2 separate regions of the Homo sapiens genome follow, and region 2 is linked to region 1. Evidence: fine-mapped expression QTL. A gene starts in region 1. The other region holds a variant in brackets. All regions are shown on one strand. Distances are between the middles of the regions. Region 1 holds the start of TMEM225B (transmembrane protein 225B). Region 2 overlaps ZNF655 (zinc finger protein 655).

Region 1 (5,393 bases):
GATATTAGGAATAATATCACAGTGTGTTAACACAGTGTGTCAACACTGGATATTAGTGATATCATGAAAAATATCACAGTGTGTTAACACTGGACATTAGTAGTAATATCATGAATATTCTGAGTAATATAACAGTGTGTTAACACTGGATATTAGTATTAATATCTAATGTGTGTTAGTAATAATATCACAGATACTATGAATAGTATCACAGTGTGTTAACATAGTGTGTTAACACTGGATATCAGCATTAATATCATGGATATTATGAATAATATGGTATGATAACACAGTGTGCTAACAAACACTGGATATTATGAATATCATAGATAATATTAATATCACAGTGTGCTAACACTGGACACTATGAAGATCATAGATATTAATATCACATTTTGCTAACACAGTGTGCTAACACTGGATATTATGAATATCATATAAATTATTAATATCACAATGTGCTAACACTGTGTTAACACTGGATATTATTATCACGGTGTGCTAACACTGGATATTATTAATATCATTGATATTAACACAACACAGGGTGCAAACACTGGATATTATTATTAGCAAGTCACAGGGTGCTAATACTAGATTTTATTAATATCATATTATTATTAACACATCACAGGGTGCTAACACTTGATATTATTAATATCATAGACATTATTAACACAACACAGGGTGCTAACACTGGATATTTTTAGTATCATAGATATTATTAACATTGCAGTGTGCCAACATTGGAAATTATTAATGTCACAAATATTGGTAATAGCACAGTGTGCTAACACTGGATATTATTAATATCACAGATATTAGTAATATCACAGTGTGTTAATACAGTGTGCTAACACTGGATATCACTAATATGATAGATAATATAGATATTAGTAATATCACAGTGTGTTAACAGTGTGCTAACGCTGGATATTATTAATGTCACAAATATTAGTAATATCACAGTGTGCTAACACTGAATACTATGAATATCATAGATGTTAGTAATACCACAGTGTGCTAACACTGAATATCATTAACATTACAGATATTAGTAATATCACAGTGTGCTACTATTAATATAATAATGTTAATACTATTGACACTATATTAGTAATATAATAGTGTTAACACTGTTATTAATATGAGAGTTAATACTACTAACACTATATTTTTAATATGATAGTGTTAACACTACATTACTAATATGTGTTAACACTATATTATTAATATAATAATGTTAATACTATTAACACTATATTATTAATATAATGGTGTTAGCACTATATTATTAATATAATAGTGTTAACACTATATTATTATTATTATTTGAGACAGAGTCTTGCTCTGTCGCCCAGGCTGGAGTGCAGTGGTGCCATCTCTGCTCACTGCAAGCTCCGCCTCCCAGGTTCACACCATTCTCCTGCCTCAGTCTCCCGAGTAACTGGGACTACAGGCGCCCCCACCACGCCCGGCTAATTTTTTGTATTTTTTAGTAGAGACGGGGTTTCACCGTGTTAGACAGGATGGTCTCGATCTTCTGACCTCGTGATCCGCCTGCCTTGGCCTCCCAAAGGACTGGGATTACAGGCGTGAGCCACCGCGCCCGGCCTAACACTATATTATGAAACACTATATTATTATTATAGTGTAGATACTATTACATTATTAATAGTGTTAACACTATTATCATTAATATAATAGTGTTAATACTATTAACACTTTATTATTATTAATTATAATATTAATATACGAGTGTTATTAATTATTAATATAATTATAATACTGTTAACACTATATTATTAACAATTATTATTAATATAATAGTGTTATTAATATAATATGTGTTAACACTATAATAGTGTTAACACTATATTATATTGTTAATATTATAGTGTTAACACTATTATATGATTAATAGTGTTAATCATGTATTATTAATATAGCAGTGTTAATAGTAACCCTATATTATTAATACAATAGTGTTAATGCTATTAACGCTATATTATTAATATAAGTGTTAACACTCAACACTATATTACTAATATAATAGTGTTAATAGTATATCATTAATATAATAGTGTTAATACTATTAACACCATATTATTAATACTATTATTATTCCCATTTTACAGATTAGAAGCCCAGGACCCAGGAAGGAGACACAGGAAATTTATTCAAAGTCCCCACGCTGGTAATGGCAGAGCTAGGATTTGAATTCAGATCCCTCCCGCTCTCTGTTCCTCCGCCCCCACACACCCGTGAGCGAAGCCGGTACTGTGGGCAGACGCCAGGGCCTGGTTTCCCCACCCTCCACCCGCCAGGTTTGCGGTGGCCGGGGCGGCAGGTAGGGAGGTGAGCCCGCGTCTCCTCCGCAGAGCTGGAGCTGGAGCTCCGCTCAGAGGCCCAGGCTCAGTGGGCTCCTCCCCCGGGTCGGGGCAACCCCCCGCCGGGGCCTCTGGGGCCAACGGAAGCTCCAGGAGCGCGGTGGAGCCTGGAGTGGAGGGCGAGGGTCCCACCGTGACCCGCCTGGAGGGCAGCCCAGCTCTGGGACGCGAAACCGCCTACGACGGTGCCGCAGGTGGAGGGAAGGGTAGAGGGGAGACCAGTATGGGGGAGAGCAAGGTGGCCCCACAGGTTGGGAGAGGATGTGGGGAAGTCCCCCTACCCACCCAAGGCCGAACATCGCCTAACTGGCTGTGGGACGCCCGGGGCAGGGGCTGGGGGCGGATGGCCTGGTTAGGGCCCAGCTTGGGGTCTTGAAAATATCCCTATGGCTTTGGGGCCACAGAAGGGCGGAGTCCTGGCATTCAGGGGAAAGGGCCGAGGACGGTTGTCAACGGGAAGGAACCTCTGACCCTACCCTGGGTCAATGTGCAGTCCAAGTTGCCACAAATGACCGGAGGAAACAGTGGGAAGGGAAGGTCTCTTTCCCATTCCAAACCAGGATGCCCTTCAGGTCGCCCACTTCCTTCATCCCCAGAGCAGCTGCCGACTTTCCTGTTAAGTGCCAGGGCCTGGGAGGTGCGGGGCTGCAGCTCAGGCGCTGAAGGGGGCCTAGGGTCCAGGAACCTCCTGCCAAGCCAGTGGTCCTCAGACGCTGGTCCAGGCACCACCACGGGGTACACAGCTTTTCTTACCTCCTGGTGTTATGGGTCCTTTCTGTTTTTTGAGACGGAGTCTCGCTGTGGCTGTGTCGCCCAGGCTGGAGTGCAGTGGCACGATCTCGCCTCACTGCAAGCTCCGCCTCCCGGGTTCACGCCATTCTCCTGCCTCAGCCTCCTGAGTAGCTGGGACTACAGGCGCCCCCACCACGCCTGGCTAATTTTTTTTTTTTTTTTTTTTTTTGTATTTTTAGTAGAGACGGGGTTTCACCGTGTTAGCTAGGATGGTCTCGATCTCCTGATCTCGTGATCCACCTGCCTCGGCCTCCCAAAGTGCTGGGATTACAGGCGTGAGCCACCGCACCCGGCCCATGGGTCCTTTAAAAAATAATAATTTGGCCAGACGTGGGGCCTCATGCCTGTAATTTCAGCACTTTGGGAGGTAAAGGTGGGAGGATCACTTGAGCCCAGGGGTTGCCTGGGCAACATAGCAAGACCCCATCTCAAAAAAAAAATTAGCCAGGTGTAATGGCATACACCTGTAGTCCCAGCTACTCGGGAGGCTGAGGCAGGAGGATCGCTTGTGCCCAGGAGGCATGAATGCACCACTGCACTCCAGCCTGGGTGACACAAGACCCTGTCTCAAAAAAGAACAACAACAAAAATTTGAATAAAAACCAAACCAGTGACAGTAGATAAGTTGCTTTGTTTTTAATGCTCTTGGCAAAATAAAAAGTTGGCAGTCGTATATTCCCCCATTCTCTCTCTCTTTCTCACACATGCACATGCCTATAAGAAAGCATTCTCTGGATCCACAGAATTCCAGATTTGGGAATCACTGAATTGAACTGCCGGCCATTGGTGGCTGGTGAGACTGTCCTGGCAGTGATGCAGTATTCTGGTCCCTGTGCCAGCACTGATGGGCTGTGGAATCCTCCACCAGTCATTCCCTCTCTCCAGCTCTCCATCTCTGCTTCTGTACAAAAGGATCTACCAATCCCCTCTTATATTCAAATATCTATGACCTTTCAGTCTGGCCTATATCCGTGCGGATCTGAAGTTGTGTATCCGAAGATGTAACCTTGTCCAGTGCTGGCACTAAGGGCTGCTTCAGGGAGGGACCTGGACTGGTGCCCAGGGAAAGGAGGACAAGGTCCTCATCACTGGAGAGTGGAGGGGGCAGTGGGAATGGGACAGATAAGGGGTAGTGCCCTGGGGTATACCTGGCCCCAAAGTAACCCCGGGCTGTGAAGACAAAAGCACTGCATCACATGATGTGTTTCTGTGTCTCTCTCCCTAGCAGTTCCAAGAGCCTCTGAGTTCCTGCCTTTTTTCATCTCTGAATCCCCACCATTGGCCTACATTGGGAGTGGGGCGACCTGTAAGTGCACAGTGAATTTTTGCTGAGGGAGTGGCTGGGAGGGCTGCGTGGAGTGGACAGCACCAAGCTGCACTTTTCAGGGGAGTGGGGTTTGGAAAATCTGGGGAGCAGAACAGGCACCCCCGCCCCCAGGAAGGAACCCAGGTGTATTAGTCTGTTCTCATGCTGCTAATAAAGACATACCCAAGACTGGGTAACTTATAAAGGAAATAGGTTTAATTGACTCGCACCACATGGCTGCAGAGGCCTCACAATCATGGCTGAAGGCGAATGAAGAGCAGAGTCACATCTTTCATGGTGGCTGGCAGGAGAGAGCTTGAGCAGGGGAACTTCCACTTATAAAACCATCAGATCTTGTGAGACTTATTCACTACCACGAGAACCGTATGGGGGAAACTGCCCCCGTGATTCAATTATCTCCACCTGGCCCTGCTCTTGACACATGGGGATTATTACAATGCAAGGTGAGATTTGGGTGGGGACACAGCCAAACCAAATCACCAGGTACAGAGGCCAGAGGAGCCTGGGGATGACGGTGATGTTCCAGGTGTGGAGGGAGACGTGGCAGGCGTGGGGACAGGAAGGTTGGAAGGTTGGGGAACTTTATGAAGGGAAAACTGAGAAGATGAGGAAGGCTGATGAGATGGAAGTGGGGTTGGGGAGAGGGAAGAACCAGCATGAGCTCAAGGCTAGGGTTTGGGTGAAGGAGAGAAAAAAAGGTAGAAAATAAAGGAGACAGAGATCACTTCTAGTCACATACAGGTGGAGATGGGGTAGACAGGAAGAGGTGCCCCCTATCAAATGAGAATGCCCAGTGTACTCCCATCTATACAGAGGACAGGATCAAGATGCAGCCATGACTCCTTCCCATTGAGTTCTAATACTAGAAGGATGCCTCAATGCCC
Region 2 (5,393 bases), 24 kb before region 1:
TAGAATTAGTAGGGAAGTAAAGTTCAATTGTTGAGCCAAGTTGTAGCTGCTTTGGCACTCAGAATGAAGAGCTCTGTGTGTGTCCTAGCATGGAGAGTTCCTTCCTTTTCCCTTCAGTTAGGTTGACCCTTTCCATTTGTTTAGTATCCGTGCACATGTCGTACTAGACCCCAATCAAGTTGCTTATCTAAAATTCTTTCAGCTGTTTCCCTATTATTTCCTTACTCTGCTGAACATGTCCGCTGTTTTACCTCACTGCTCCTGTTTATGCCCTTAACTTCTGCTGTTGAGATTTTGTGCCTGTTTTTCAGAGTAAATAAACTTTTCTTGTCCTTGTAGATACTACATTGTTTAGTTTTCTCATCTGAGTTTTCTTTTCCTAAGCACAGGGTACAGATTACATTTGCATTTTCTATTTATATATTGTATCAGATGGAGAGACCAGAGAAGAGAACAAGCTGTTGATTCCTAAGCAGAAAATTTCGGAAGAAGTGCATTCATACAAAGTGAGAGTAGGAAGACTCAAACACGATATTACCCAAGTTCCTGAGACTAGAGAAGTGTATAAGTCTGAGGACAGATTAGAAAGACTTCAGGAAATTCTAAGGAAATTTCTGTACCTGGAGAGAGAGTTTAGGCAAATAACAATCAGCAAGGAAACCTTCACCAGTGAGAAGAACAATGAATGTCATGAACCCGAAAAAAGCTTCAGTCTGGACTCTACTATTGATGCAGATCAGAGAGTTCTTAGAATACAGAATACCGATGACAATGATAAGTATGACATGAGCTTCAACCAGAATTCAGCCTCTGGTAAACATGAACACTTAAATCTAACAGAGGATTTTCAGAGTAGTGAATGTAAGGAAAGCTTAATGGATCTCTCCCACCTTAATAAATGGGAGAGCATCCCTAACACTGAGAAATCCTATAAATGTGATGTATGTGGGAAAATTTTCCATCAGAGCTCAGCCCTTACTAGACATCAGAGAATCCATACTAGAGAGAAGCCCTACAAATGTAAAGAATGTGAAAAGTCTTTCAGTCAGAGCTCAAGTCTTAGTCGACATAAAAGAATACACACTAGAGAAAAACCTTACAAATGTGAAGCATCTGATAAATCCTGTGAAGCGTCTGATAAATCCTGTAGTCCAAGCTCAGGCATAATTCAGCATAAGAAAATTCACACCAGAGCCAAATCTTACAAATGTAGCAGTTGTGAAAGAGTCTTCAGTCGTAGTGTCCACCTTACTCAACATCAGAAAATTCACAAAGAGATGCCCTGTAAGTGTACTGTATGTGGCAGTGACTTCTGCCATACTTCATACCTACTTGAACATCAGAGGGTCCATCATGAAGAGAAAGCCTATGAGTATGATGAATATGGGTTGGCCTATATTAAACAACAAGGAATTCATTTCAGAGAAAAGCCCTATACGTGTAGTGAATGTGGAAAAGACTTCAGATTGAATTCACATCTTATTCAGCATCAAAGAATTCACACAGGAGAGAAAGCACATGAATGTAATGAATGTGGAAAAGCTTTCAGTCAAACCTCATGCCTTATTCAGCATCACAAAATGCATAGGAAAGAGAAATCGTATGAATGTAATGAGTATGAGGGCAGTTTCAGTCATAGCTCAGATCTTATCCTGCAACAAGAAGTCCTCACCAGACAGAAAGCCTTTGATTGTGATGTATGGGAAAAGAACTCCAGTCAGAGAGCACATCTAGTTCAACATCAGAGCATTCATACCAAAGAGAACTCATGAATGTAATGAAGATGGGAAGATATTTATCAAATTCAGGCTTCATTCAGCATCTGAGAGTTCACACCAGGGAGAAATCATGTATGTACTGCATGTGGTAAAGCCTTCAGTCATAGCTCAGCCATTGCTCAGCATCAGATAATTCACACCAGAGAGAAACCCTCTGAATGTGACGAATGAAGAAAAGGTATTAGTGTTAAACTCTTAATCGACTCCTGCAAATCTATACCAGTGAGAAATCTTA[C/T]AAATGTATTGAATGTGGCAAATTTTTCATGCTATTAGTATTTTCATACCTTAGTCACATTTGGAGAATTCACATGGGAATAAAATTCCATTGCTGCAATGAATGTGAAAAAGCCATCAGTCAAAGAAACTACCTTGTTTAGTATCAAATTCACGCCATGCAAAAAGATTATAAATGTAATAAGCATGTATGTGTGTGAGGAGATTCAGTCATAACCCAACGCTCATTCAACATCAAAGAATTTATACCTAAGAGAACTTATTTGGGTGTAGTAAATGGCAGATCTTTCAATAGGAGTTTAACTAGTCTTTGTCATATCAGAATATCCATAGTAGACAAGAATTTGATGTAACGCAAATGGAAAAACTCGACACCACATTTCAGGCTTTACCCAACATCGAAATAATGGAGAGAAAATTGTTGATTATTTGTTTATGAAATTGTTAATACATAGTCCCAATCTTTTTCATTGCACAAAAATCTAGGGTTGACTTGGTAAATGCAGTGACATTTTCTCATGGAGTTCCTTTATTTAATATGTATTCTAAGTAGGTACGTTTATTTTTACTTTTTTATTATAATTTTGATATTAAAAAGAACAGAGATGGGGTCTTGCTTTGTTGCCCAGGCTGGTCTTGAACTCCTGGCCTCAAGCGATCCTCCCACCTGTCCTCCCAAAGTGCTGGGGTTACAGGCGTGTGTCACTGTGCTGGGCCTATTTTATTTATAGAACTCATTTAAGCTGTTTTTATTTTAATATGCCCTATAAACATTTTTATATTTTTTGAAATTGGTTCTTAGTGTTCACAACTTCCATAAGATACTGCTAATGCACCAGTATTAAAACACATCGACGTAAGTAGCTCATTTAGCTTTTTCTGCTGTTCTTGGCCCAAGTTCTTTCCAAAACCAACTCTTAGGCCTGCTCTTTACTAGGGATCTTATGTCGTATTGCTTTACAGCCACAACACTTGGATTCCTGTTGATTAACTTCTCCATTCTCTTAAGCACCTTTAGAAGATTTAGAAGTTTCCTAGTTTTAAGTGTTTCACCAGCAAGTATTCCATACCTACTTGATGTTGCTGGTCTGGTGTCTTATTTCCTAAAGTGAAGCATCTTTTTTTAAAAAAGAATTTGATTGACAATATATCCAGTCCAATATAAGTATGAAGGATTCTCTCTCCTGAGATTGTAGCAGGCAGCCAAACATTTTCAAATGATGCCCAAGGTTTTAGCTGTCTTGTGTGCATCCACAGTCTGCGAAGAAGACATGATAAGGACATCAGGGAGCCAACAAGACTCCTAATAGCCTCACTACATTCATCCAGTGCCTATTCTGCATGCCTAAGCTTAGAGTTCTTTTATATACCTCTACGGCCAGCAAAATGCTCAGGTCTGCTCTTGGTAGGGTAAACATAAAGAAGATACACAGGCCGGGCATGGTGGCTCACACCTGTAATCCCAGCACTTTGGGAGGCTGAGGCGGATGGATCACGAGGTCAGGCAGTCGAGACCATCCTGGCCAACATGGTGAAACCCCGTCTCTACTAAAAATACAAAAGTTAGCCGGGTGTGGTGGCACGCGCCTGTAATCCCAGCTACTCAGGAGGCTGAGGCAGGAGAACTGCTTGAACCTGGGAGGCGGAGGTTGCAGTGAGCCGAGATTGCACCACTGCACTCCAGCCTGGGCGACAGAGCAGGACTCTCTCTCAAAAAAACACAAAAAAACAAAAACAAAAAACCATACACACACACACACACACACAAATCAGCATCATAAGGGAATGTAGCCTTCCAACAGAGATGATGCTGTTCGTATGTTAATCTCAGAGACAGTATTTCAAGAGAGTGGCAGGTCTGTTCCTGGTAAAATTTTAACCATTAGGATTGCAGATAAATGTTTGAATTCTGCTCCTCTCTCATCAATCCAGGACAGTATTTGAAGTGTGAGGGCTTTGTGTATAGTTGTTTATCCATTACCACATTTTTGTATTTTAATAGTCTACAGGCTATATAAAAGAACATGGCTTTTTGACTGATAAAAGTGATTACAGATGTTGGCTCAAGTTCAGGGCCACCATCATATACCTAACAAGAGTTCATGATTCTTTAGGTAATGTCAAAACATTTTGTATTTTTCCATCTTAAGCTTTATAACATTTTGTGAGTAAGACAAATGTTATTTAAAATTCTTGTTGTCAGTCCAGCAATTGAGGCTTTCATAGTTCAGTGTTATAATATTCAGTAGGGACCCTCAACAAATATATAAAAATATGTTGCTCACTCTATAATCCTCCTATGGCTAACCTCTAGGATAGTTCTGCCACTATATTTTACTTCTTTGCCATCAGCAAGAGTAGGATTTCATCAAGGCAAGGTAGGAATCTAAATGAAATTGATATATAAATGAATTGATCTAAATGTAAAAGCAAATGAAAAATGCATGTGTTTTTTCCTGTCAAACATGTATACCCTTATGTATAGAGACCAGTAGTCACGTATGGTGACTGAAACAGGATTATGTAATCCCTAAAAAGCAGAATATGTAAAAATCACATGTATGCGTTTGGTTTAGGAATGTGCTTTTGTACTTCCACTTGAATAAAGGTGTGTTTGGTATTCTGAGAATTTGTTTCAAACAAAATCTGAAGGTCTCAGACAGAAGCGTTTGGGAATGTTGGAATCACATCTCTGGCTGCAACTCCTTTCCTCCCTGGAACTTGCTTCACAGCAAGAATGGATCACTTTCCTTTGCATTGATAACAAAGCTTGCTTTTCCACAGACCTCTGGAACAAAAGCTGAATGTTTGGGACTTAAAGGGGATTTGATTGGGAAGTTGTTGGTATATAAAATAAGACTAAATAGTTCGAGGTTTCAGTAGAACTAGGAATAACTTTTTGTTTGTTTGTTTGTTTTTTGAGACAGTCTCGTTCTGTCACCCAGGCTGGAGTGCAGTAGCGTGATCTCGGCTCACTGCAACCTCCGCCTCCTGGGTTCAAACGATTGTCTTGTGTCAGCCTCCCAAGTAGCTGGGATTACAGGCACCTGCCACCTTGCCTGGCTGATTTTTGTATTTTTAGTAGAGACCGGGTTTCACTGTGTTGGCCAGGCTGGTCTCAAACTCCTGACCTCAGGTAATCTGCCTGCCTCAGCCTCCCAAAGTGCTGGGATTACAGGCGTGAGCCGCTGTGCCCAGCCATATTTTTTAAATAAGTAAAACACTTTAAAAAAGGCGGACTCAAAATAGTCCTTTAGGGCAATCCTTTAAGCAGATATTTAATTGGCCTGATACATGAGTTTGTGTTCTGAGTCATTTTGGTCTTGAAAGGGGAGAGAAGAGAAATACGATAGTAGAGGGCACTTTTATCTTCTGTCTTTC

Evidence for each region. PIP is the estimated chance that this variant, and not a neighbour inherited with it, causes the effect.
Region 2: its variant is the best candidate, but not a certain one, in a credible set for the expression of TMEM225B in T cells (TOPMed, PIP 0.75).

The regions. Positions count from the first base shown.
Region 1 is chr7:99,595,798-99,601,190 of GRCh38, forward strand. TMEM225B (transmembrane protein 225B) reads left to right here and starts at 2,470. Exons shown (of 6, transcript NM_001195541.3): 1 at 2,470-2,584; 2 at 4,408-4,488.
Region 2 is chr7:99,571,813-99,577,205 of GRCh38, forward strand. It overlaps ZNF655 (zinc finger protein 655), which reads left to right. Exons shown (of 3, transcript NM_138494.3): 3 at 433-4,641. The coding sequence ends at 1,772. Among named protein-coding and RNA genes, the nearest start is that of ZNF655, 16 kb to the left of the region's middle. The variant C/T (reference allele first, on the strand shown) is at 2,014.